Linked DNA regions of Homo sapiens. The protein of the gene in region 6 interacts with the protein of the main gene of each other region in a pairwise test. Each region holds a gene or a part of one and is shown on either strand. Other genes may lie near its edges.

Region 1 (3,500 bases), on a different chromosome or scaffold from region 6:
CCAGGCCCTCACTGCTCCTTAAATAATGATCAGTGCCCCAGGGACCGCAGGCCTGAAAAGAGCAAAGGAGGGAGACAGTTTCTCCCTGGCCCTATTAAACTGTATGTTCTGTCTGCCCACCCACCCAATGGCTCTCTTGGGACCCCAGGTATAGGAATGTGCCTGCTTCCCAGCATGCTACCTCCTACCACCCAGCTCCTAGGCTAGGAATGTTCAGAGGAAGGAGCCTAGGGGTGCCTCCTTCAGGCCAGGACAGCCTGCTGAAATGAAGACAGCCCCTGGAGACATATATACACTTCAAGCAAAGGAATTCAGCTGGAGGCCAGGCACGGTGGCTCACGCCTGTAATCCCAGCACTTTGGGAAGCTGAGGCAGGTGGATCACATGAGGTCAGGAGTTCCAGACCAGCCTGGCCAACATGGCAAAACCCCATCTCTACTAAAAATACAAAAATTAGCCGGGCATGGTGGCAGGCACCTGTAATCCCAGCTACTCAGGAAGCTGAGGCAGGAGAATCGCTTGAACCCACGAGGTGGAGGTTGCAGTGAGCCAAGATCATGCCATTTCACTCCAGCCTGGGCAAAAAAGGAAAACTGTCTTTAAAAACAAACAAACAAAAAAAAGGAATCCAGCTGGGCATGGTGGCTCATCCCTAGAATCCCAACACTTTGGGAGGCTGAGGCAGGATCACTTGAGCTAACAAGTTCAAGGCCAGCCTGGGCAATATGGCGAAACACCATCTCTATAAAAAATACAAAAACTAGCCAAGCATGGTGGTACACGCCTCTTGTCACAGCTACTCAGGAGGCTGAGGTGGGAGGACAGCTTAAGCCTGGGAGGGAAAGGTTACAGTGAGCCGAGATCTTGCCACTGCACCACTCCAGCCTGGGCGATAGAGCCAGACCTTGCCGCAGAAGAAAAAAAAAAAAGGAATGCAATACGGGGAAGTAGCATCCCTATACCCCCACCAAGATCTACACAGGAGGAGGTCCCAGAGTCCCATGCCTGCATCCCTGGGCAGAAGATACCAGGCAAGGCAGGGCCCTACCTAAATCCCCACGACTACTGGGGCAGGGGACTTGAAGCCCACCCCCTTCACCCAAATCCCTCCCTCTCGCTCTGCCCACAGCCAGTGCAAGACGATCAAATATTCATCGCCTCTCTGAAGCTAAATAATACATCAATGTAATAACAGGCACAAGGCAGCTAATCACCCCCTTTCACCTCCCGGCCTAAGCTAGGGCCACAGCAGGGAGGCGGGCAGGGACAGGCCAAGCCTTGGGCAGTCAGACATCCTGCATGCACCCACCACCAACTGCTGTGTCAGTGGCATGCACCTGGTGGGCAAACACCGAGTCCCGCTGGGGTGTCAGGACAGGCCCTGTGAGAGGTGGGCAGACCCCTTGGCCCCAACACCAGGGAGTGGGTGGGCGGGCTGGAGGGGAGGAAAACAGGCTGAGGAGCTGGGGAATGTGGGAGCTGCCACTACAGCCAGCTGTAGTGGGTGCCAAGCAGTCCTTCAATGACCCTGACAGGCAGTGTTTGGGAGGGAAGGAAGCTGGGTGGGTGGGTCAAGGAGGGGGAGGCAGGCAGCAGAGGGAGGTCACAGTAAAGTGAAGGCACTCTGTCTTCCTGCCCTGGAGGCTGCCTGGGCCTGCTGACCTTGTGCCATGTCCTGTGCCCACAGTAGGGGCACTGAAGAGTGTCTGCCGGGCACTACCAGGCAGAAGGGAGCTGTACCCCATGGAGGTAATTAAGTGGCAGATGAAGTTAACTGTGTTGGACACAGGCCCCTAGGGAGTAGAGACTGCTCCCAATACCCTCCTACCCAGCCCTAGCTGACACGTCTCCCTAGGGTGACCTTGGCTGTTGAAGACTGGATGGGCAGAGCATCTGCTAAAGAAGGAGGAGAGGAGGGACAGTTCCTCTCCCCACAGCCCTGTACCACTCCTAGAAGTCACAAACTCCACCAGGTTGGCCAAGGATAAGGCCCCCTGGGACCATCTGGGATGTAACCCAGCAGACCCCCTTGTGCCTGAGACAGCCCGGGGTCACAGATCATTGCAGAGGGGTGGGCAGGCAAGCAGCCTTCCAGCCTGGACCTGGGGCCTTGAGGCTGCCAGCAGGAGTGTGGGCTGGCCCTGGAGAAAGGCACAGGTGACTGATCTCCTGGCTCCCCTCTGCATGCTCCCTGGTTGTTCCCTGGCAGGGAGAAAGCAGCTGGCTCTGGGTGGGGCCCGTACTGAGGGACAAGAGAACACTTTGCTCCCCTCCTTACCTTCCAGATCTATGCCAATCTTACTTCCTGCTGAGCCCCACCCAAGGGACTCCTTTCCTGAGCAGCCTCAGCCCCCTCCCATGAACATCGAGCTGTCTGTGATCTTTGTTTCCAAGGGTACTCCTGCTGCATCTGGAGGGAATCCAGGCAGGGTCTTTGTATCTGTGTTGCCAGGAGGTAATGTGTGTGAATCCACATCTATGTAGATCCATGTGTCTGGGAACAGGCAACTCCACATGTGGGTCCTCAGGTAGGTGGGTCTCCTTCCTCCCTCTGCCAAGCATAGCCTGACACCCACAGTGCCAACCCAGAGAGGGAGGAGCCTCCTCAACCAAGCCCCTGGAGTCCAGAAGAGAGGAGCTCCAGGAGGGCCCCATCCTCATACCCCACCTTCTGTACCTGTGCCATCCACCTGGGTGTCAATGGCCTCCACAAGCCCCCGCCATTTCCACTCTGTCTCCTTCATCTCAGGCACATAGAAGTCTCCCTGCCGTGCCAGTGGGCACATGAAATGGATCTGGTCTTCCTGGTAGATCTCCAGCCGAGGATAGGCACACAGCTTCCGCTCCTAGTCAGAGAGTGGCAAAAGGTAGAATGAGCCCTACAGGGCCCCTGACTCACTTGTCCCTGGGTGACCCCCAGAACTGTCTATTACCTATTCTGTCCCAGGGGCTGGCTCTGCCTCTCAACCTCTTCCAAGTTCCAAAGCCCTGCTGAGGGAGGCACACATAGATCACCCTAACAGCAGGGCCCCATAGTCCAGAGTGCAATAATAGTCTGAAGACCCAGGACGACACCCTAGGGCAGGTGGTAAAAGAACCCAGGAGCCTGGCACTGCTCTCCTATGTGTACATCTGAGACCAAAAAGCTGTTCCAGAAGGCACTGGTCTCACAGAGCCATGAAGCTTGGCACCCCTGGACCACCCCAGGATAGGGACCCCATGTGCCTAAGCCAAGGTCTCACCTACCAGACTTTCCATCCCAGGACCCCCTGGCCCTGACCTCCTCTCCACCCTGGACAACGCTGACTGACCCACAGATATCAGAAGACCAGCACCCCCAGTCCTTAGGCCTCCAGCCCCTGCTCTTGCAGACATGCTACTATAGACCCTGAACAAGGATCAAGGCCAGCTAAACACCACTTCCACTCCCATTCATTCCCCTGCTAGTTTAGAGCTATGTCAACCTCTGAGACTATCAGGTATGGTTCCCATACCTCCTC
Region 2 (3,500 bases), on a different chromosome or scaffold from region 6:
TGCACAGGAGCTGACGAACCACTGGTGTCACTATGACAATTTGGCATTTTCATCTGGAGTCCATTTAATTTGGGAGGGGTGAGAGAAGCCAAGGGCCAGGGCTGGGGGTGGGGCGGGGTGGGGTGAGGGAGGCAGGAACAAGTTTAGGCCCCCAACCTGAAGTTGTTGCTTAGAATTCAGGCTGAAAGAAAGAAAACAAAAATCTGACATCTGCCAAAACCCAATAACAAGTCCCTTCTTAGGATGAGCAGTTAGGTGGATCTCTGGTGTTCCAAGACCCTGATGTTTTCTGTGACAAGTGATGGGAGGAGACTGTGCTATAATGTCAAAAGCATCGCCAGGAGGAACAGTAGGATTGCCAAAAGGCGGCTGGGTATCCTTGGTGTTTGTGCCGCGTTCTCGCCGCGGGATGGCTCGGCTGACTCATGTACGGTGTCATCTGTTCAAATAGAAAGCACACATTCCAATGAGATTTCACATCCTTAATAACTCTCTTGCAGCAGCCTGCTGTTAACAGACCTCGCCACCCTCTGCAAAGTAGGGTAATGAACCTTGTGCCACCATTGACTTTCATGTCTGCATAATCACTCATTATTTACAGCAAACAAAGAAGAGGCAAAGAAAATTGGACTTTCTCAGCAATATTAATACTTTCCTTAAAAATTGAGGGGAAAAATTATGCATACACCGTAACCTTTGGCCTGTGAGCTGCTTTGGTTAGCCAGCAGTCAGACACGCCTTGCACAAATTTCAGATATCTGAATGTACCTTTGAAACCTAAGATGTCACAGGCAAGCAAGTGACATGTTGGTGGGGGTGGGGGAAGGGGCAGTTATGTTGGCACAGTAGTGGTTAACCAGAATGCGCTGCCCATTTCCCTTCTTTTAGCTGTTTCATAGGATTAGTGTTGAATGCCTGGTTGTTGGATGCCTAGACGAATTTTCAAACATGAAAAACTAAATGCCAAAACAGCAGCATTTTGGATAAACTATACATCATGCCTAGTAAACTTCAATAAACGTATGCCCACTAGTTTGCCTGCAATTAGGTGTCAATTATGGTGCTATTTCTATTACAAACCCTGTATTTCTAAGATTAAATTACTTGAACTTGACTATTTTTATTTTTATCGGGCTGAAGCTTGGCACATAAATTATCAGCGTGGATGCAAATTTTCCTCTAAATAAAATAGATTAAGTGAGTTAAGCTTCTTTTATTTAGCTATAAAGTGTTCTATGAGGCTGCCTCTGACTTTGGATAGCCTTCCTGATCTGCATGATTAACAGGCTTAACTTCCAAATGGGAACTCTGAAGCAATTAGTACCAAAGAGAGGTTGGAGGCTTGCCTAGGAGCCAAGCTCTGCTCCAGGGCTGCCTGTCTTCTTCTTTCCACCTGACCTAACTTATGCTTTTATTTACTTTTAATTAAGTTAAATTAATTAATATTTTTTTAGAGGTAAGGTCTTGCTCTGTTGCTCAGGCTGGAGTACAGTGGCCCAATCATAGCTCACTATAGTCTTGACCTCCTGGGCTCAAGCAATCCTCCTGCCTCAACCTCCCGAGTAGCTGGGACTCCAGGTGTGAACCACGATGCCTGGCTAATTTTAAGAATTTTTAGAGAGACAGGGTTTTCCTTTGCTTCCCAGGCTAGTCTCAAACTCAGCCTCAACCAACTTCCTCCCTTGGCCTCCCAAAGGATTGGGATTATAGACATGAGCCACTATACCTGGCCACTTGTGCTTTTAGACTAAGGATCTCTGAATAACACATTTTGGGGGCCAATAGTGAGCCCCTGTGCAAATTTTATCTCAGCATCAGGGTAACTTCCTGCAGGTGTTCAGCAGTTGCCATCTGGGAATTGCTCAAGGGCCAGACAGAATGGTAACAAGGCTCTAGTGGTTGTTCTCAATTATACTGACCTCAAAGGATAATCCCTAAATACCCCTGGATGACCCACCTCAAACCCCTTAATGGGTTAACTAACCATTATTTTAAACTCATTTGTATTTTCCTACCACACGTGTCACAATAAGGGTGCTTTTCCTTCACTGGGTAGAATCACACTCGCTAATATTTGTCCTAAAGTAACCACTTTTCAGGTTCACAGGCTGACCCCTGCTTCAGATATGCTCGTTTGGGATGGTTTTGTCCATCACATCCATTCCCAATGAGAAAGGTCTTCTCAGTGTTGAGTCTCCTGACCTGGAGTGCTCTTACCATTTTAGCCTCCCCTCGAATAAAAGCTACTGCATCCCCTTGTCAAATGTGCTCCCCTTTCCTGGACCTTAGCGAATCTGCATGGAGTGATTTTAGCTTAGGAGACTAGAAAAGGTTAGGAAGCAAGATGGTAAGATAAATGGATGCAGAAAAAATATATATAAAGTCCTCCACAATGTGGCCAAGTACCTTCAGACCCTCTTCTATTCTCTGCTCTTTTTCAGCCTTGCAAGTGTATTAATTAAATCTGTAGTTAATAGGAAGTAGAAGTAAAGGCCCTTAATAGCCCTGAAATTAAAATCCAAATCACTTTCTTAAGAGCACCAATATGTTGTCAATCAAAACAATGGAGCACTTCAGGCTTAACTGTGAAATAACCACAAACCCTGAGGATTCCAGAGTTCATTTCACAATATCACATACTTAAACACCTGAAATTGCATCAGCTATTGGATTCCTCTCCATCTTATTTTTACTAGCATATTACCCAATCCTTCTCCTTGTATAGCTTGCAAGTGTACTGTTAAAGGTACCCAGCTAGCACTTAGATCTTCGGTGTGAACCCCTTCATCACCACCCTAGTCCCTTCTAGGTACTCAGTGAGGGCTATCCATTATTCCAGGTCCACTCAGCACAAGACACAAGGAATAGATCTTACAAGGTAATGGAGAGGAAGGCTTTTGTTTTTCATCTAAGTGAAGTATGAGGCTAAGTGTGACTTTCAGTCCTTTAACCATACACAATCTTTGGAATTAACCTTTTATAAGCACCCAACGAATATATATCTTCCTGCCCCCCAAAAGGAAATCAGTCCCATTAGGGCATCAGGATCCTTCTCTTCTTCCTGCAACATGCTGTTCCTCATTCAGGATTCCACAAAGCATCCTTTGATTAAAACAGGTTCTCAATGTTGGAAGATTCTACAGCCCCCAAATGTGAAATGAGAAACTGGCTGTCATTTGGGTAAATCTGAGCAATTTCAGAATTCTAAGGAGGAATTCATAGGTAAAATCTATCCCAATGGAAACTACACCTAAACATGAGAGAATTTCTAACGCTTGTAACACAGGCTTGGAAGAAGAAAGAAAACGTTCCTCTTCAGAAGTCAAATCAAGTTTTGCCTCCTGGCTACAGGATTCCACAACATGGGGGTTTCAATGGTTAACGGAGAGAACACTAGCGATATTTTGGAGCATGTTATGTGGCATATGTCTGCCCTGAGATCATCCTGCATCCCTGATGATAGGAAACTGGCAGGCAGAGTGTGCAAGCAAACAAAAAAG
Region 3 (3,500 bases), on a different chromosome or scaffold from region 6:
CTTACCCTTATATAAGGAGGAAAATAAGTCTGTTTACTCTTAACTACTCTATTTGGCATTGTACTGGAGTTTCTAGGCAGTGCAAATGAAATATGAAAAGAATGGCATCCAAACTGGAAAGAAAAAAAAGTAAAACTGGCTTTGTTCACAGATATCATGAATGTCTTTGTAGAAAATCTAAATAAATCTACAAAAATACTACTAGAACTAACAAGTAAGTGTAGCAAGGTTGCTAGAAACAAGATTCAATCCACAAAAAATAATAGCATTCTATGCACTAGTAACCATTAGAAATCAAGTATTTTTAAAAGTATCATTTACAATAGCATCATATATGAAATACTTAGGCATAAATCTGACAAAAGTTGTGAAAGAATTGTACACTGAAAACTTAAAAACAAACATTGCTGAAAGAAATTGAAAAGATGCAAATAATGGAGAGATATACCACGTCCATCTACCAGGAATTCAATATTTTTAAGATGTCAATTCTTCCAAATTTATCTATAGATTGTAATCCCCATCAATATTACAGCAGAATTTTTTGTAGGCTTCAAGAAATTAATTCTAAAATTCATTTGGGAATGCAAAAGACTTAGAATAGTAAAAATGAGTTTGATAAAGAACAAAATTGGAGTACAAACACTACCTAATTATATTGCTTTCTATAAAACTACAACAATAAAGACAGGATAGCACTGGTGTTAAATAAATATATCAAGAGAACAGAATAGAGTCCATATGCATATGGACAACTGATTTTCAAAAAAAATACAAAATTAATATATTACAGAATGAAGAATACTTTTTTCAACAAATGGTGCTGGAACAATTGTCTATTAATATGCAAAAATGAACTTGCATTTATACCTCTCTCCATACGAAATCGTAACTAGTGATGAATCATAGATCTAAAGGTAAAATCCAAAACTATAATTCTCCAGAAGGAAATATTTGCAACCTTGGTTATGCAAAGAGTTCTCAGATAAGACACCAAAAGCACAATAAGTTGATAAATTGGACTTCTTCAAAATTAAAAACTTCTGCTCTTCAAAAGACACTGTTAAGAGAATGAAAAGACAAGGCACAGAAGGGACAAAATATTTCCAAATCACACAGGAGATAAAAGGCATGTATCCAGAGTATAAAAACAACTCTTGAAGCTCAATGGTAAGAAAATAAACAATCCAATTTTTAAAATGGGCAAAAGATCAGAACAGACAATTCACCAAAGAAGATACTATATGGATGGCAAATAAGGACATGAAAAAAATTCTCTACTTCATTACTCATTAAGGAAATGCAAATTAAAACCATGGTAAGATACCACTCCACATCTCCTAGAATGGCTAAAATGTTTTCAAAACCTGACCACACCAAGTGTTGGTGAGGATGTAGTGAAACTGGAACTCTTATACACTGTTGGTGGGAATGTAAAATGGTATAACCATGTTCAAAAGCAGTTTGCTCGTTTTGTACAAAGTTAAACATATACTTATCATATGATCCAGCCATTCTACTCCTAGGTATTTACCCAAGAGAAATGAAAGCATATGTCCATACTAGGACTAGTACAGGAAGGTTCATAGTTTTGTAGTATTATTTGTAATAGCCCAAACTGGAAGCAACCCAAATGTCCATAAACAAGTGAATGTATAAATAAATAGTGGTATAATTTTACAATGGAAACTACTTAGCAATTAAAAAGAATGAACTGTTGTTACCCTCTACAGCACAGGTGAATGTAAAAATAATCATGGTGAGTGAAAGAGGTTAAATAAAAAAGAGTACATTCTGTATGATTCCAGTTATATAACATTTTAGAAAATGAAAACTAATCTATAGCAACAGAAAGCAGATCAATGACTGTCTGAGGATGAAGGTGGGGGAGGGCAGGAGGTGAGTAGAGAGGGAGCAGGGAAGGGTGAGAGAAAGGGATTACAGAAGGCCACAACAATCTGTGGTGAGTGATGCATACGCTCAGTGTTTTGACTGTGGTGATGGATTTATGCATGTACACTTACGTCAAAGGCCCCTCCTAATTTGCTCCTGTCCATCACTCCACACTCATGGCAACACCCCCTGTATTATACTTTAAAATTTAGCAAAGCAATATTGAATCCTTGTCTTAATGCTTCCTTCCTTACTTTGGTAATGTGTTTCTTTGCTGAAATTTTCTCTTTTCTTTCTGGCCTCTTATTCTGGTTAGTTACTCATCATCCTAATGATGTGTCACTTTTCCAGGAAGTCCTCTCTGTTTGTGTCTAAGTCTTCACACCCAACCCTCACTTGCCCTAAGGAGTATCTGTAATACCTGTGTACCTCTGCCATTGTACTAACCATTTTGTTTTATAAGTGACTATTCCCTCACTAGAATGTGAGCTCCTTGAGGGTAGGATCTATGCTATTCATCTTTGAATTCTCAAAGCCTCATTACCTCAGAATTATCTGATGTAGTGGAATGAACATGACACTGCAGAGTCAGGAGCCTTGGGCTTGAATTTTCAGTCTGCTAATAAACTGATGTTTTGGACATAGGAAAATAACTAACTCACCCATCAGTAACAGAAAGGAATTGAGCCAGATGCCTCCTAGAGTCACATCAGCCCCAACATCCTGGTATCCTGTGACAATTAGTTCAGGCCCGTGTAACCTGATTGTCCACAGAACACCAGCTGGCTAGGTGCCCACAAACTTAGGGACATTCCTACTGATTCTTTCCTTCACAGACAGGAAGAAGAACCTCTTCTTCCTTCCTCTCCCACTTTCTACCTCTCCAGACTCATACTAAATTGAGTAAGAAAATCTTCTCACCTGGTGAAGATTGTCACTACTTTTGCCACATGCCATAAGGGCCCCAGAGAGAATGCTGCTCCGTTTCCCCTTCCCCTTTTCACTGTTACTGGGCAGTGATTAAGCCTCCCACCCCTTCCAACTACCATCTAGAGGAACCGACACCCCTCCCACAGTCAAAGTCTATGACTCTTAGATGCATGACTCATGGTTCTATGCAAAAAGCCACCAATATCAGTTTCCAGGAAACCTGCGTGACCAAACTGCACTTAACTGTGGCTACCTTCCACAACTCAACATGGAGGTTAGGGATCAACTTTGCTCTTTAGTTTCCTCCAATGGGCTTGAGCTGGTAGAACCTGCGGATTTCTAATTCCATCCCTGTCTTTTTTTTGACCTGTACTAACAGCACCATGTAATCTACTCTTGAATTTAATCAAGCTTAGAAGTGGTTAAGGTTGGATAGAGGCTTCAAGAACCTCGATCAGGCTCGCCATGGTGGCTCACACCTGTAATCCCAGCCATTTGGGAAGCTGAGGTGGGAGAAGCCCTTGAGCCTAGGAGTTTAAGACCAGCCTGAACAACATAGAGAGACCCTGTCTCTATTTTAAAATTTTTTTAAGTTAAAAAAAAAAGAACCTCTATCAGTTCTTCATCTTCAGCCTTATCTGATCCAATATTACAAGCTAGGCTGGAGCCACATAAGA
Region 4 (3,500 bases), on a different chromosome or scaffold from region 6:
AAGACTTAACTGTAAAACCTAAATCTATAAAAACCCTGGAAGACAACCTAGGCAATACTATTCTGGACATAAGAACAGGCAAAGATTTCAGGACAAAGACATCAAAAGCAATTGCAACAAAAGCAAAAATTGACAAATAGGATCTAATCAACTAAAGAGCTTCTGCACAGAAAAGGAAACTATCCACAGAGTGAACAAACAACCTACACATTGTGAGAAAATATTTGCAAGCTATCCATCTGACAAAGATCTAATAGCCAGTATCTATAAGGAACTTAAGCAAATTTACAAGAAAAATCCACCCCATTAAAAAGCAGACAAAGGACACGAATAGACACTTTTCAAAGGAAGACAGGCATGCTGCCAAAAAAAACAGGAAAAAAAGCTCAACATCACTGATCATTAGAGAGGTGCAAATCGAAACCACAATGAGATACCATCTCACACCACTCAGCATGGTTATTACTAAAAAGTCAAAAAATAACAGATGCTCGGGAGGTTGCAGAGCAAAAGGAACACTTATACACTGTTAGTGGGAGTGTAAATCAGTTCAGTCATTGTGGAAGACGGTGTGGCAATTCCTCAACGTACTAAAAACAGAAATACTATTTGATTCAGCAATCCCGTTATTGGGTATATCCCCGAAGGAATAGAAATCATTCTTCCATAAAGACACATGCATGTGGCCAGGTGGGGTGGCTCACACCTGTAATCTCAGCACTTCGGGAGGCCGAGGTGGGTGGATCACCTGAGGTCAGGTGTTCGAGACAAGCCTGGCCAACATGGCGAAACCCCATCTCTACTAAAAATACAAAAATTAGCCAGGCATGGTGGCAGGCACTTGTAATCCCAGCTACTCTGGAGGCTGGGGCAGGAGAATGGCTTGAACCTGGGAGGCAGAGGATGCAGTGAGCCGAGATTGCACCACTGCACTCCAGCCTGGGCAACAAGAGCAAAACTCCGTCTCGAAAAAAAAAGAGAAAAAAAGAGACACATGCATGTGTATGTTCACTGCAGCACTATTCACAATAACAAAAGACATAGAATCAACCTGATGCCCACCAATGGTAGACCAGACAGAGAAAATGTGGTACATATACACTATGGAATATTATGCCGCCATAAAAAAGATCGAGATCATGTCCTTTGCAGGAACATGAATGGAGCTGAAGGCCATTATCCTTAGCAAACTAATGCAGGAACAGAAAACCAAATACCGCATGTTCTCACATTCTGTAGGTTGTTTGTTCACTCTGTTGATATAAGAGAGAGCTAACTGGTGAGAACATATGGATACATAGGGGGACATGACACACACTGGGGCCTAGCAGAGGGAGGAAGCTGGAAGGAGGAAGAGGATTAGGAAAAATAGTAAGTGCTAGGCTTCATACCTGGGTGACAAAATAACGTGTACAACAAATCCCCATAACACAAGCTTACCTATACAACAAACCCACATATGTACCCCTGAACTTGAAAGTTAAAAAATAATTCTAATAACTTTGGAACATAATAACCTCAGCATTCTTAGTAGATTAGTCTACACTTAAAAAGACTCAAATTTTGAACTCAGTGTTTGTCGTGGTACCTTATAGTAATTTTGAAACCATTTTCTGTAAACTGTAAAATAGACCAAATGAGTAAAAACATACTGATGCTTTTGGAAACTAGGATTCTCAGTGTGAGAGAAAGAAAATACAAATTTGGAATGTGGAAAATAAGGAAGAAAGGTGTGGTGTTAGATTTGAATCAGAGGCTTCTATTTTCAATCATAGTCACAAGTATAAACTTGTGATTTCACAAAAATCTATTTCTTAGCCAAATCCCACCACTGTTTTTATACAGCCCAAAACTAAAGATGGTTTTTACATTTTTTTCTTTTTTGAGACAGGGTCTCACTCTGTTGCCCAGGCGGGAGTGCAGTGGCACGATCTTAGCTCACTGCAGCCTCCACCTCCCAGGTTCAAGCAATTCTCCTGCCTCAGCCTCCTGAGTAGCTGGACTACAGGTGTGTGCCACCACGCCTGGCTAGGTTTTATATTTTTAGTAGAGATGGGGTTTCCCCATGTTGCCCAGGCTGGTCTCGAATTCTTGACCTCAAGCAATCTGCCCGCCTCAGCCTCCCAAAGTGCTGGGATTACAGGTGTGAGCCACTATGCCTGGCCTGTTTTTACATTTTTAATGTAAAATGTAAAAACTATAACTATTCTTGTGGTGAGAATGGAAACTCAAAGACTTGAAGACATTATCTCTTGGCCTGCAAAGACTAAAAGATTTATTATCTGTAGGAAGTTTACTAACCCCTGAACTAGACTATAAAATTGTTAGAAATATTTAAAGTAAAACAGGAGAACTTAAATGTGTTATGCCTCATTTAGTCTCAATGATTACATCACTACTAACTGGTTGGGTGTTATGTCAATTCAACATATGTAAGCAGATAGATCATCATACACACATGTGCACAGACAGCCTCAAAGAAAGATAGGAGGGTTTTCAGGCCTCAAAACTCAAACAAATCATTGGGTACTAATTCCTTCATGGTATTACCTTTGGTGCCTTTTCACCTTTTCTTTCATATTGATTTCGTTGTTGAATTTTCTCAGCAATTTCTTGGGCAATTTGACAAGTAGAATCGTATGTGGAGAACCTGCACCAAAGTCGTAAAAAGAGAAAATGTTTAAGGTTCTTTTTTTTTGAGACGGAGTCTCGCTCTGTCGCCCAGGCTGGAGTGCAGTGGCACGATCTCAGCTCACTGCAAGCTCTGCCTCCTGGGTTCGCACCATTCTCCTGCCTCAGCCTCCCCAGTAGCTGGGACTACAGGCGCCCGCTATCATGCCTGGCTAATTTTTTGTATTTTTAGTAGAGATGAGGTTTCACCGTGTTAGCCAAGATGGTCTCGATCTCCTGACCTCGTGATCCGCCCCCTCGGCCTCCCAAAGTGCTGGGATTACAGGCGTGAGCCCCTGCACCTGGCCTTAAGGTTCTTTAAAAGAAATTTTTGCATTGTCTAAGTTTGACATTTTCATTCTAGCCAAAGAATTCAAACAGAGGGGAAGAATAATAACATGACCAGTAAAAGCAACATGGACTGAGCGTTATTTACCATGTGCCAGGCACTATTTTGAAGGCTTCGTTAGTAATAACTCACTTAATCAAAACAGGAACGCTATGAAGTGGGTACCATTACCATCTCCAACTCACACATGAGAAAAGGAGGCACAAAGAGTTAGAGTGACTTGCCCAAGTGGTTCTGCCTGCTGCAAACCAAGGCCGTCTGGCCCCAGAGCCGGGGCTCTTAACAACTGTGCTGTTCTGCCAATGAGAAAGCATGTGGGGGGTCTCCGCTGCACTGGGCACTGTTCTGGGCACTGGAGAAGACGGCAGTAAACAGAATGAACACAGTCCCTCTTTCAAGGAGCTCATATTTTAAGGAAAGAAAGTCATAAAACAATTAAATACATAGTATGTCAGGTGTTGATAGGTGCTAAGAAGAAAAA
Region 5 (2,966 bases), on a different chromosome or scaffold from region 6:
ACGCCCAGCTAATTTTTGTATTTTTAATAGAGTCGGGGTTTCACCATATTGGTCAGGCTGGTCTCTAACTCCTGGCCTCAGGTGATCCACCTGCTTCAGTCTCCCAAAGTGCTGGGATTATAGGTGTGAACCACTGCGCCCGGCCTCTACTTTAATGTGTATCTCATCTCAGCTTGCTGGTCAGCTCCCTGGGCTGCTTGACAGGTTCCTGGACTCTTGTGGCCTCTCAGGCAGAGAGGTCCCACACCTGGTGGGCTGGATTGTAGGGATTAGTTCCTTGGGGCCAGAACAGCACACAGAATGACTCCCCTCCAAAGGCTGGCAGAGATTCTTACTCAGCTGGAAGGCAAATTTAGCAGTGAGCCTGCATCTGCAGGGTGGCACTTGATGGATTCAGGGACAAGTTACCAAAGAGCTGTCATATATACAGCCCCCTTGCCAAAGCTGAGGCCTCCCTAGGGTGTGCATTTTCTTCCATATTTCTCATCACTCTCCATGTATCTCTGGTCTCTCTGAATCTCCCCTCAGCACTCTTACTACTTCTTAAATTCACTGTTGCCAAATGGTGGTTCAGGGAATTCATATTGGACTGGCCTCAGCTCTAACAAGGATTGGAAGTTGACTGATGATACACAACGCACTAGGTAAGTTTGTTAGGACTTCTGGGTATTTTCAACTCCATAATCCCCTCCATAAAGACATGGTAATCAGATTTCCTTCCCACCTGGTCCCCTCAGGACTCTCCCATAAATCAACACTGTAATTGCCTATTTGTCTGTTTCCTCTATTTGATTAATAACTTCTTAGGGCAATCTTATTCTCCATTCTATTTCCACCTAGAAGTCCCTGGCACATACTTTTTTGTTTCAGTAACTACTAGGTTGGGACCTACGCTATCTTTTAGGGGGAGACATTAAGGATTTAGTTAAGGCTCCACAGCTGATGACAGCAGCGTTTCTCCATCCTTCGAGAAGGCCACCCAAACTGAGGTTGTACTTTCTCAGTAGCGGCCACTTGGGGCACTAGAGCTGCCTCAGTGAAGTACGCAAGGGAGCAGCGGGGGTACCATCGAAGCTCCACTTCACTGTGATCAAGACAGCAGTGGGGTACCATTGAGGATCAACCCTAGGGACCCTGAAACAGGGTGGCAACCTCCTTATGTTCCTCAATTGGCCTTCCCATCTTTTTTTTTTTTTTGAGATGGAGTCTCGCTCTGTCGCCCAGACTGGAGTGCAGTGGTGCAATCTCAGCTCACTGCAAGCTCCGCCTCAGGGGTTCACACCATTCTCCTGCCTCAGCCTCCCCAGCAGCTGGGACTACAGGCGCACACCGCCATGCCCGGCTAATTTTTTGTATTTTTAGTAGAGACGGGGTTTCACCGTGTTAGTCAGGATGGTCTCGATGTCCTGACCTTGTGATCCACCCGCCTTGGCCTCCCAAAGTGCTGGGATTGCAGGCATGAGCCACCGTGCCCAGCCTGGCCTTCCCATCTTTAAGATCTCGAGTTATTTTTCCCTCTGCTGGTTCTAAAGTCTGTTTTAGTTGAACTCCAGACATCTGTCCTGAACCATGCCCAGATGTGGCCTTAGGCAGGCAGGGTGAGTTAGGATTTAGGTTTTATACAGGGGAAGGGGAGAGAAGGGAGGGTGGGATATGTCCAGAGCATATCCCAGCTCTACCTTACTACTTTTTAGGACTTATGCTCAAAGCTCAAAATGTAACAAGGTACATAAAACTTGGTCATGGTGGACACTGGAGTCAGAGTCATGTAGAAGTTCTCTTCCCTACATCTGTGAGATGACAGCTTTCAGGTTTCCAGATTAGGACAGTCCTTTGCACTGAGTTGGTAAGAGTGAGGGATGGGGCTGAGGCATGGGGAGTCCAGGGGCAGAGGGACTCAGAGCAGGGACTCAGAGCAGGGGCCCAGGGGCCCGAGAGAAAACTTGTACCTGGGATGAAAGTTCCTCCACAGCCTCCAGTTGCTTGGTCTGCTTGTTAGGGTGGGGTGGGCAGGGAGGGACAGGTAAGGCCTACAACTTATGGGAGGCTGGTGGTGTGGCTGTCGAGAGCTGAGGAGGAGATGGGGTGAGTGGGATGAGGGTTCAGTTAAGTCAACCATGGAGCTCACTGATACTTTACTTTTCCAGACACTCATGCCAACAAGAACCTGTGCCCCTCCTTCCTAACCTGAGGCCTGGGGTTCCTCAGACCATCTCCTTCATTCTGGGCAGTGCCCAGCCACCGGCTGACCCACACCTGACACTTCCAGCCAGTCTGCTGCCTGCTCCCTCTTCCTGAAACTGGACTGTTCCTGGGAAAAGGGTGAAGCCACCTCTAGAAGGGACTTTGGCCTCCCCCCAAGAACTTCCCATGGTAGAATGGGGTGGGGGAGGAGGGCGCACGGGCTGAGCGGATAGGGGCGGCCCGGAGCCAGCCAGGCAGTTTTATTGAAATCTTTTTAAATAATTGCACGTGTTAGTCTCATGTGTCAGCAATGCTGTGTCTGGTTCAGTGATCCCCACGGGAACGCGAGCCGGGGGGTCGACTGGAAGTGCTCTGTCCCTTGAGTCCATGCTGGGGCTCCCCTACACGGGGAGAAGAGCCGGTCAGCCCATCTGGAACTGGCACTGTCCAGCAAGTGTGCTCTGTTCTTACAGGGTGTCCTGAAGGCCAAAGTTGGAGGCCTGAGACCACGGGCTCCACTGCTAAGAGCGTGCCCCAGGCAGCTGCAGGCTGGGTGTGGGTGGCTTGGCGTGGTGCCCTCGGTGGCAGAGGAGACTGCCCGCCTCACAGTTCAGGTTGCGGTAGCGGGCAACAGCTGGTGTGGGGCGGGGGCACATGGACAGGAAGCCAAAGCTGAAGGGGCCGAGGCAGCAGCCAGGACAGGGCAGCCCCTCATCGGGCTCCCGGGGAGCTGAAGGGGGTGGCGAGGGTTCTGTCCGCTCCAGGGCTGCCGCCCGGGGCAG
Region 6 (4,020 bases):
GTGGCACGAATTTACCTATATAACGAACCTGTACATGTACCCGTAAACCTAAAATAAAAGCTTTTTATTGAAAAAGAAAGTATAGTATCTTAATTTCTACTCTTTGTTACAAATTATATACTAGATCCATTTTTCTAATAACTTAATTTTTTGTCAAGCTAAATACACGCCACTTTCAGGATGTTTACCTTTCTGATACTCTACTCTGGGGGTGTGTATGACTCATTTAAGTGTGATGACAAATTTACTAAGCATTGACTAAAAGTGAGAGTCAAGCCATGTTTTATTATTACACTGGGAATTGCTATAAAAATTCATAAAATTCTCTACCAATACTGATAAAACATTTATTATAAATGTCATAAAATTTTGCTACCAATACTCTTCATCAAAGTTTCCTACCAATATTGATTTTCATGCCAAGATTAAATTACATTCTGTATGTATTTAAGTATGGATAAATGTGAAATGACAAGGAACCCTTAACCCCCCGTGTTCAACACTGTACAGAACCCAAGAGCGAGGGAAGATCAATAAAGCTTAAAGCAAACTCTATGTGAATAAGTTCCTAACGTAATTATCTGCAAAAAGTATAAATAAGAATAGCCAAAAAGCCAAGACTTCAAATTTATCCACTGGGAAATTTGTGTGTATTTTGGATTAAATATCTAATGAACTAAGATGCATGCAATACGGAGAATGTTGCTGCTTTATGACCAGATAATCTCTCGCCTACGTCTCCTGCCTCACCCCTCACCCATCCCTATCTCAAAACTCCATCCAGCCTTATTTTCTTGATTTGTCTTCCTTCAGAAGTTCTAAACCCTCAAATGTCTTCAATCCTCTGTGCTATCCCCCATTCCTGAAAGACAAGTCCCCTCAAGCTTCACCTGGATAATTTCTGCTCTCCTTCCAGACTGAATTTTTTTTTTTTTTTTTTTTTTTTTTTTTTTTTTTTGAGTTGGAGCTTTGCTCTGTCTCCCAGGCTGGAGTGCAGAGGCCCGATCTCAGCTCACTGCAACCTCCGCCTCCTGGGCTCAAGCTATGATCCTGCCTCAGCCTCCCAAGTAGCTGGGATTACAGGCGTGCACCACCACACCCAGCTAATTTTTGTACTTTTAGTAGAGATGGGGTTTTACCATGTTGGCCAGGCTGGTCTCGAACTCTTGACCTAGGTGATCCACCCACCTCAGCCTCCCAAAGTGCTGGGATTACAGGCGTGAATCAATGCGCCCGGCCCTTCCAGACTGATTTTCAGCCCACATGTCATACTTCCAGGATGCTGTTTTTAGTCCTGGCCAACTCTGGAAGAAGCATGCACCCCTTTGGGTTGCTCTCAAAATTTCCTCAACTTTCCTTCTCATACCACTTAATCAGCCTGAGCTTTAATTGCCTGGATACTTGTCTGTTACCTCGTTGTCTACTCATCACTGCAACTCCAGTGCCTAGCTCAGAATCATCAGATGGCAAGCACTCAGTTAACACACATGTTCAATCAGTAACCAGACTTTTGGTCCAGCCCAAGGTAGCCATCCTGATAAATGATGATGGAAAATACCTCTGCAAGCACTGGAGCCTCTCATCTCAAGAAACTCCAAGAGCATTTCTGAAGAGAGCAAATATCTAACCATATTATTTAACTTGATTTGTTTCAAATAATCAAAATAATCAGGGAGAATTTTCAGCCTCCAGGTGAAACAAACTATGTTTTCTAAAATTTGGTTAAATCAGTTATTTATTTTTAAAAAAATCAGAGAAATGGTCCGGGTGCAGTGGCTCATGCCTGTAATCCCAGCACTTTGGGAGGCAGAGGCGGGAGGATCTCAAGGTCAGGAGATTGAGATCATCCTTGCTAACATGGTGAAACCCTGTTTCTACTAAAAACACATAAAATTAGCTGGTTGTGACAGCACGCGCCTGTAATCCCAGCTACTCAGGAGGCTGAGGCAGGAGAATTGTTTGAACCCATGAGGCGGAGTTTGCAGTGAGCCGAAATCGTGCCATTGCACTCCAGCCTGGGTGACAGAGCGAGACTCTGTCTCTCTCTCACACACACACACACACACACAAAATCAGAGAAATGTAGATTTTCTAGGAAACTGCCAGTTAAGTTCATCTCTCCAGCTCTTAGTATGTGGCAGGCATTTGTTCTAAGGGCTTTATCCATGTTTACTAATTTAGTTCTCACAACATCAGATGAATGGGTACTACTGCTATGATCCTTTCCATCTAACAGATGAAGAAGCTGAGGAACAAAGAAGTTAAGTAGCTTTCCCAAGCCCACACAGCCAGCAATTTGAGAAGCTAAAAATCAGAACCTCAAGCTATCATTACACTCCACTGTCCCCTGAGCTATGCTAAAATGCACTTTGCAGACCCCATACTTCAGGCATATCGAGACCACCCCTCATCATCAGAGCTGGCAGACAAACTCAGGTGCAGCCAGTGGGATTTAATGTACCTAAGAGGTGCGTGTGCATGTGTGTGTATCCATACCCACATTTTCCCAAAGAAATTGCTGTATTATTATGTCTAACACTTTTTATCATGGCTCCAAAGGAATCATCACATCCTAAAGAGAAGCCATGTTCACAGTTAAATGTTCCAAACCTCTACATAGCAACCAAACAGAGACCTTTGCAGACATCCCCAGTAGTCCACTGGGAGGCATTTTAACGAAAGATATAAAAGAAAGGGGAATGTCTATGGAGAGGGAATCTATACCTTGGAGGCTTCAGGCTTTGGCAGACGGCTTTCCTCCCAAGTCCACCTTGTCGCAAGTAGGAGACACTCAGAAAAGATCACTACAGCATCTTTTCCCGATAACGGAAGCCTCCACAGACTTAACGTTATCTTTGCCTTATGCAACACTTTAGAGGACTTGGTGAAAGTGTTTTGCGGGCTGACTGACCAGTGTGCTAATCACATCTGCATTTGGGGCCTCGCTGATCCATTGTGTTTCCCCAGGGCTTAGTGATGATTAGGAAACTGGTGTGAGGGATAACTGTCTTCTGGCTTTCAGATGTTGCTTAACACATTGCTGGAACAGGAAACACAAGCAACAATATGGGTAGACAAGTGGGAAGAGGTTGTGGGTTGGAGGTAGAACAGTGTTAGGTGCATAGCAAGAAGAGACAAAGTCACACTGTAAGAGAAGCATCTGGAGGAGGGAGGTGGTCACTCAGGCACTTATTTTACATGATGTGCCAGCAACGGTGCTATGTACCTTATATGCGTGATGACATTCAATTCTTACATGCTTAGAGAGGTTAATTACTTTGCCCAATATCACAGATATAATAATAATGCTAATTATTGTTTAAATGTATTAAATGGTTACTACATACAGGTCATTGTTCTGAATGCTTTACATATGTTAATTCATCTCATCCTCACAATAACCCAGGACCCAGGTACTACTATTAACCCGATGTTATGGTAGAGAAAACTATGGTATAGAAATGTTACCCAGCTTTCCTAAAATTTAACTGGAAAAGCCCTGTGCAAAATCTCTGTTTTGTACAATGGTGAAGCCCGAAGTGTGCCTGTTATCCTAATATGATTGTTAAAACCCCTCCTTTCAGTTTCTTTTTTGTTTTTTGGTTTTTTTAGGTTTTTTGTATTTGTTTGTTTGTTTCGTTTGTTTATTGAGATGGCGTCTCACTCTGTCATCCAGGCTGGAATGCAATGGTGCAATCTTGGCTTACTGCAACCTCCGCCTCCCGGGTTCAAGCAATTCTCCTGTTCCAGCCTCCTGAATAGCTGCAACTACAGGCATGCACCACCACTCCCAGCTAATTTTTGTATTTTTAGTAGAGACAGGGTTTCACCGTATTGGTCATGCTGGTCTCGAACTCCTGACCTCCGGTGATTCACCTGCCTCAGCCTCCCAAAGTGCTGGGATTACAGGCATGAGCCATCGCGCCCGGCCTCCTTTCAGTTTCAAAAGTGGCCAAATTATATGCTTATCCTAAATAAATGTCCTAAAATAGGCAATAGAAAGATCAGAGCCAAGTGACA
Region 7 (3,500 bases), on a different chromosome or scaffold from region 6:
GCTGTGAGTGGAGGCTGAGTTTACTCAGCATGAACTTTGCAAACGTGCTTGGGAAGAGTGTCTTTTCAGAGCTGGCCCATGGGTGTGTCTGTGTGTGTGCACACGCACATGCATGCATGTGTACAAATGTGCACATACACACATGTATACCACAGAGAAAAACACAACAACTGAAATCGATTGTTGTTCTCAGAAAACATTCCAGAAATTGATCTTCCTCTTTCTCAACAGGTTAAGATACTAGATTCAGCCTATAAGTCAAGAAAAGGAGCTTAGAAGTAAACAGTACTGCCATTTTCCTTCTCTGCCTATCCAACTCCTCCCCACCCCCAAACTCTTAGACTTTTCTAGTAAAGAAAGTCTCTGAAGCCTGGGGATGGGGGGAGAAGAAGGTCAGTGACCCCACTGTTCCCTTTCTCCCCAGCACAGGGTCAGGGCTTGGACAGAGCCCTCCATAGCTCCCCCGGACAAAGAAGCCTTGTTCTTTCCTGAGATCTCAGGAGCCTGATTGGTATTCCACAGGGGCCTGCAGCCGGGGGGTGGGGAGGGGGTCAGACTCAGGGAACAATGGCAGGACTGTTTGTTTAGCCGAGGGTAAGAAGAGCCATCCACCCTAGCAAGTGACCATCTTGGGCCTACTCACTCATCCCAGCATTTTCATCTGGGAAGGGCTAAGTGCTTGTGCAGGTATGGTCAGGGATGGAGGAACTTGAACTCTTGCTAGCCAAAAGAGAACTCCACTTTAAGCGTTAGGTGATGCCACCTCTAGGGTTGCAAAGATGAGAGGGAAACATCCTCTTGAGTGTATCTGATCCCTCAATCATCATCCAAATAACCTGAGAGTGTCATGGATTGTGTTCTTACTGGGTGATAAATGGCTAAGCCTTAGGAGCAATTCTGAGTCACCAGATCATAGCCTTTCTTTTTACATCCATTTTTCCTCTATTTTCTTAGAACTTGAATAACTTAGCATCCCCTTTTCTGCTCCACTACAGCTCAAAGCAAGGGACAAGAAAGAAGTAGGCTTTAATGAGTTTCTAATGTAAAGTCTGAAATAAATGACTTTAGATAAATCTATCACTATTAAGCTATAAACAATTCAGTAATATCAGCATAAGCATCAGATGTTCATCTCTTCACAACCTAGATGAAATGTTTGCTTTGGGGGCATTTAAGTTCAGCAGAAGTGAAGAATCTCAGTCAGTCTGTCCAAGCAAGAATCAGATTTTAGATTCTAACTGAGAAAAACTCAGAGCCTGCAAGAAATTATTTTTTCATCAAAGTAGTTGACAATCAAAGCATTCTGAGAAAAGATCCATTGGGCTCCCTTTGATTTTTCACAGTCCAAGAAATGTCCCTTGGGTATGTGTGAACAATAGCCTAAAGCCAAAAGCTCTCCATTTCAGAACCCCTCCTGGTTGAAAGGGTGTGAGTTTGATTCAAGAAGGCTGGAAGAGATTCTAGGGGAGAAGTTCCTTGGCTCTCTCAAGAGACATTCTCACATTTCCAGTCTAAGTACAGACTGCGAGATGAGAGAGTTGGCATAAAAGAACCATATAGTAATAACATTTCTCAATGCAACTCAGTCAGATTAAGCCACCTGACTTTGATGAAAGGTCATAGAGAAAAATAATGACCCCCTCCAGTGTTTTTCTTTCATTTCTGTTTATGTGAATTCAGTACAAGAATTAAGCACACTAGCAGTGACATAGACATTAGGAGAAACAGAAGGGAATTAAAAGGCCAGTCCCTTTCTTTAGAAAACTTGAAATCCTGTTGGGGTGAACAAACATATGTCTGTGAATCAAAATCTAAAGCTACCTATAAGCAAGTGTTAAAATGGATATAACGAAGTTGTGTGGGCAAAATGTAAGCAAAGGGAAAAGATCATGTCATGGTTGGCTACATTTGTATACAAACTCCCAAAACAAGTCTAATCAATCTGTGATAGTTGATACTCCAACTTTAAGCCCTTCTCACCAGCGCTCTTCACAGCGGTCTGACAGAGATCAACAGAACCAATGTGACTTACACAGATCCAGGTTCATCAAGGGACTGTGTTGATCCTGATGCTGTCTCTTTAAGCAGGCACCAAGAGCTCCCAACCCTCCCTCCCTCCTTTCCCATGCCCTGGGCCCGCCTCAAGGACCAGCTCCATGATGGAAATTCAGTGTGAATCTGGGAACTCATCAAAGGAAGGAGAGGAAGGGCTTTCATCGAAAGGAATGGTAGAAAGAGACCAATTGTACCCTGCACAATTCCCAGCCTGTCCCTTGAATCCAGCTGACAAAGGGAGAGATAGAAGAACCCTATACAATAGAGCTAAACAACAGGCAGGCTCATTGAGTGAGAAACTGGCCCCACCTCCCTAGGTCTCGAATCTGCACTACAGTCTTACCCTCCTCCCAGAACCCACCCCTTAACCTTACCCCATGAACAGAGGCCTCCTTGATCAGGGCCTGCAGTAGTTGACAAGGCCGAAATGCTAGAGCAGCCGTGACTGGTACTAGGGATGGATGGGGATCAGTGGGTGGGTTCTAGGAGTAAAACAACAATTATCAAGAGGTGCCAGAGACAAACAAAGACTTTTGCTTCGGGCCTCGTCCTGGTCAGACAATGCCCTGCCTATAATCTTGTCTTTCCTACATATCCCTTTTGATATCAGCACTTATATACCACATTCAAGTGCTGGAAAACAGTCCCGAAGTCTCTGGGGCCTGGGAATCCAAGCCTGCTGGATAGTCAAATCATGTGGACAAGGTTAACTAAAAAGGAATCTCAGCCTCCTCTTTGGACACGATTTAGTATTACCACGGCAACAGCATCTGGACTATCTTGTTTCCTATACTCCCCACTCCTCTTCAGACGCGCACACACACACACACACACACACACACACAGAGAGAGACAGAATGAATGATGTACACATTCCAATTTATGTGCAAGCATTGGGAAGCTGAGGTAGGACTTTGATTGTTAAAACTTATCCTTGGCACATTGTCTCCACCTTGCCCACGAATGGGAAGATGAAAGGGAAGTAACTGGTACTAGAGACAATAGTAGCCATACCTTGTTCCTCAGGTCAGTCTCCCACCATTTCCTCCTCTCTCCTTGTTGCAGTGTGAAGCTGATTTGGGGAACCTTATTCTCTTCCTTGGGACTCTTTTCTAGAGCCCTGCCTGGCAGACAGCTCAGAGGCCAGTGCAGAGCTGAGAGATAGCCCTCAGGGCCATTTTGCCGTAGGCAAGAGGGATTAATCAATCAGTACTTGCTGAGCTTTTGATGTAAGTTTGGCACTGAGTAGGCTCTGAAAGCAGGAAAGGAAGGAAAAGCTGCTCCATTCACCTACCATGGCTGCTGTGACCCTTCCTGATCATGTCACTGTCCTCACTTGGTCTTCTTTAGACCTGAAGTGCTGTGGGCAGGGAAGGCATTTCTACTGTTGCTTTCTTTCAAGACAAAGACCTGTACCCAGGGGATGGCTTTCAAGGCTTCAGGAC

The links.
Region 1: the proteins of MS4A3 (region 6) and TEX264 interact in binary tests that used the Homo sapiens proteins (3 or more experiments, as listed by UniProt).
Region 2: the proteins of MS4A3 (region 6) and EFNA5 interact in binary tests that used the Homo sapiens proteins (3 or more experiments, as listed by UniProt).
Region 3: the proteins of MS4A3 (region 6) and CD53 interact in binary tests that used the Homo sapiens proteins (3 or more experiments, as listed by UniProt).
Region 4: the proteins of MS4A3 (region 6) and STX8 interact in binary tests that used the Homo sapiens proteins (3 or more experiments, as listed by UniProt).
Region 5: the proteins of MS4A3 (region 6) and CD72 interact in binary tests that used the Homo sapiens proteins (3 or more experiments, as listed by UniProt).
Region 7: the proteins of MS4A3 (region 6) and PLP1 interact in binary tests that used the Homo sapiens proteins (3 or more experiments, as listed by UniProt).

Annotation. Positions count from the first base shown.
Region 1 is NC_000003.12:51,698,752-51,702,251, reverse strand, and holds part of TEX264 (testis-expressed protein 264), read right to left. Parts: intron 2,847-3,500; coding exon 2,678-2,846; intron 1-2,677. UniProt on the Homo sapiens protein: Major reticulophagy (also called ER-phagy) receptor that acts independently of other candidate reticulophagy receptors to remodel subdomains of the endoplasmic reticulum into autophagosomes upon nutrient stress, which then fuse with lysosomes for endoplasmic reticulum turnover.
Region 2 is NC_000005.10:107,380,938-107,384,437, forward strand, and holds part of EFNA5 (ephrin-A5 isoform 1 precursor), read right to left. Parts: intron 440-3,500; coding exon 318-439; 3' UTR 1-317. UniProt on the Homo sapiens protein: Cell surface GPI-bound ligand for Eph receptors, a family of receptor tyrosine kinases which are crucial for migration, repulsion and adhesion during neuronal, vascular and epithelial development.
Region 3 is NC_000001.11:110,879,648-110,883,147, reverse strand, and holds part of CD53 (leukocyte surface antigen CD53), read right to left. Parts: intron 1-3,500. UniProt on the Homo sapiens protein: Structural component of specialized membrane microdomains known as tetraspanin-enriched microdomains (TERMs), which act as platforms for receptor clustering and signaling.
Region 4 is NC_000017.11:9,565,821-9,569,320, forward strand, and holds part of STX8 (syntaxin-8), read right to left. Parts: intron 2,651-3,500; coding exon 2,551-2,650; intron 1-2,550. UniProt on the Homo sapiens protein: Vesicle trafficking protein that functions in the early secretory pathway, possibly by mediating retrograde transport from cis-Golgi membranes to the ER.
Region 5 is NC_000009.12:35,609,482-35,612,447, reverse strand, and holds the end of CD72 (B-cell differentiation antigen CD72), read left to right. Parts: intron 1-528; coding exon 529-644; intron 645-1,694; coding exon 1,695-1,824; 3' UTR 1,825-1,846; intron 1,847-2,147; coding exon of another isoform or gene 2,148-2,298; 3' UTR 2,299-2,466; downstream 2,467-2,966. Other genes in the region: TESK1 (dual specificity testis-specific protein kinase 1), read right to left, coding at 2,706-2,966. UniProt on the Homo sapiens protein: Co-receptor of B cell receptor (BCR) that plays both positive and negative roles on B-cell functions. Recognizes the Sm/ribonucleoprotein (RNP) self-antigen ligand, and coligation of CD72 and BCR inhibits BCR signaling.
Region 6 is NC_000011.10:60,055,445-60,059,464, reverse strand, and holds the start of MS4A3 (membrane-spanning 4-domains subfamily A member 3), read right to left. Parts: upstream 2,801-4,020; 5' UTR 2,725-2,800; intron 1-2,724. UniProt on the Homo sapiens protein: Hematopoietic modulator for the G1-S cell cycle transition. Modulates the level of phosphorylation of cyclin-dependent kinase 2 (CDK2) through its direct binding to cyclin-dependent kinase inhibitor 3 (CDKN3/KAP).
Region 7 is NC_000023.11:103,779,840-103,783,339, reverse strand, and holds part of PLP1 (myelin proteolipid protein), read right to left. Parts: intron 1-3,500.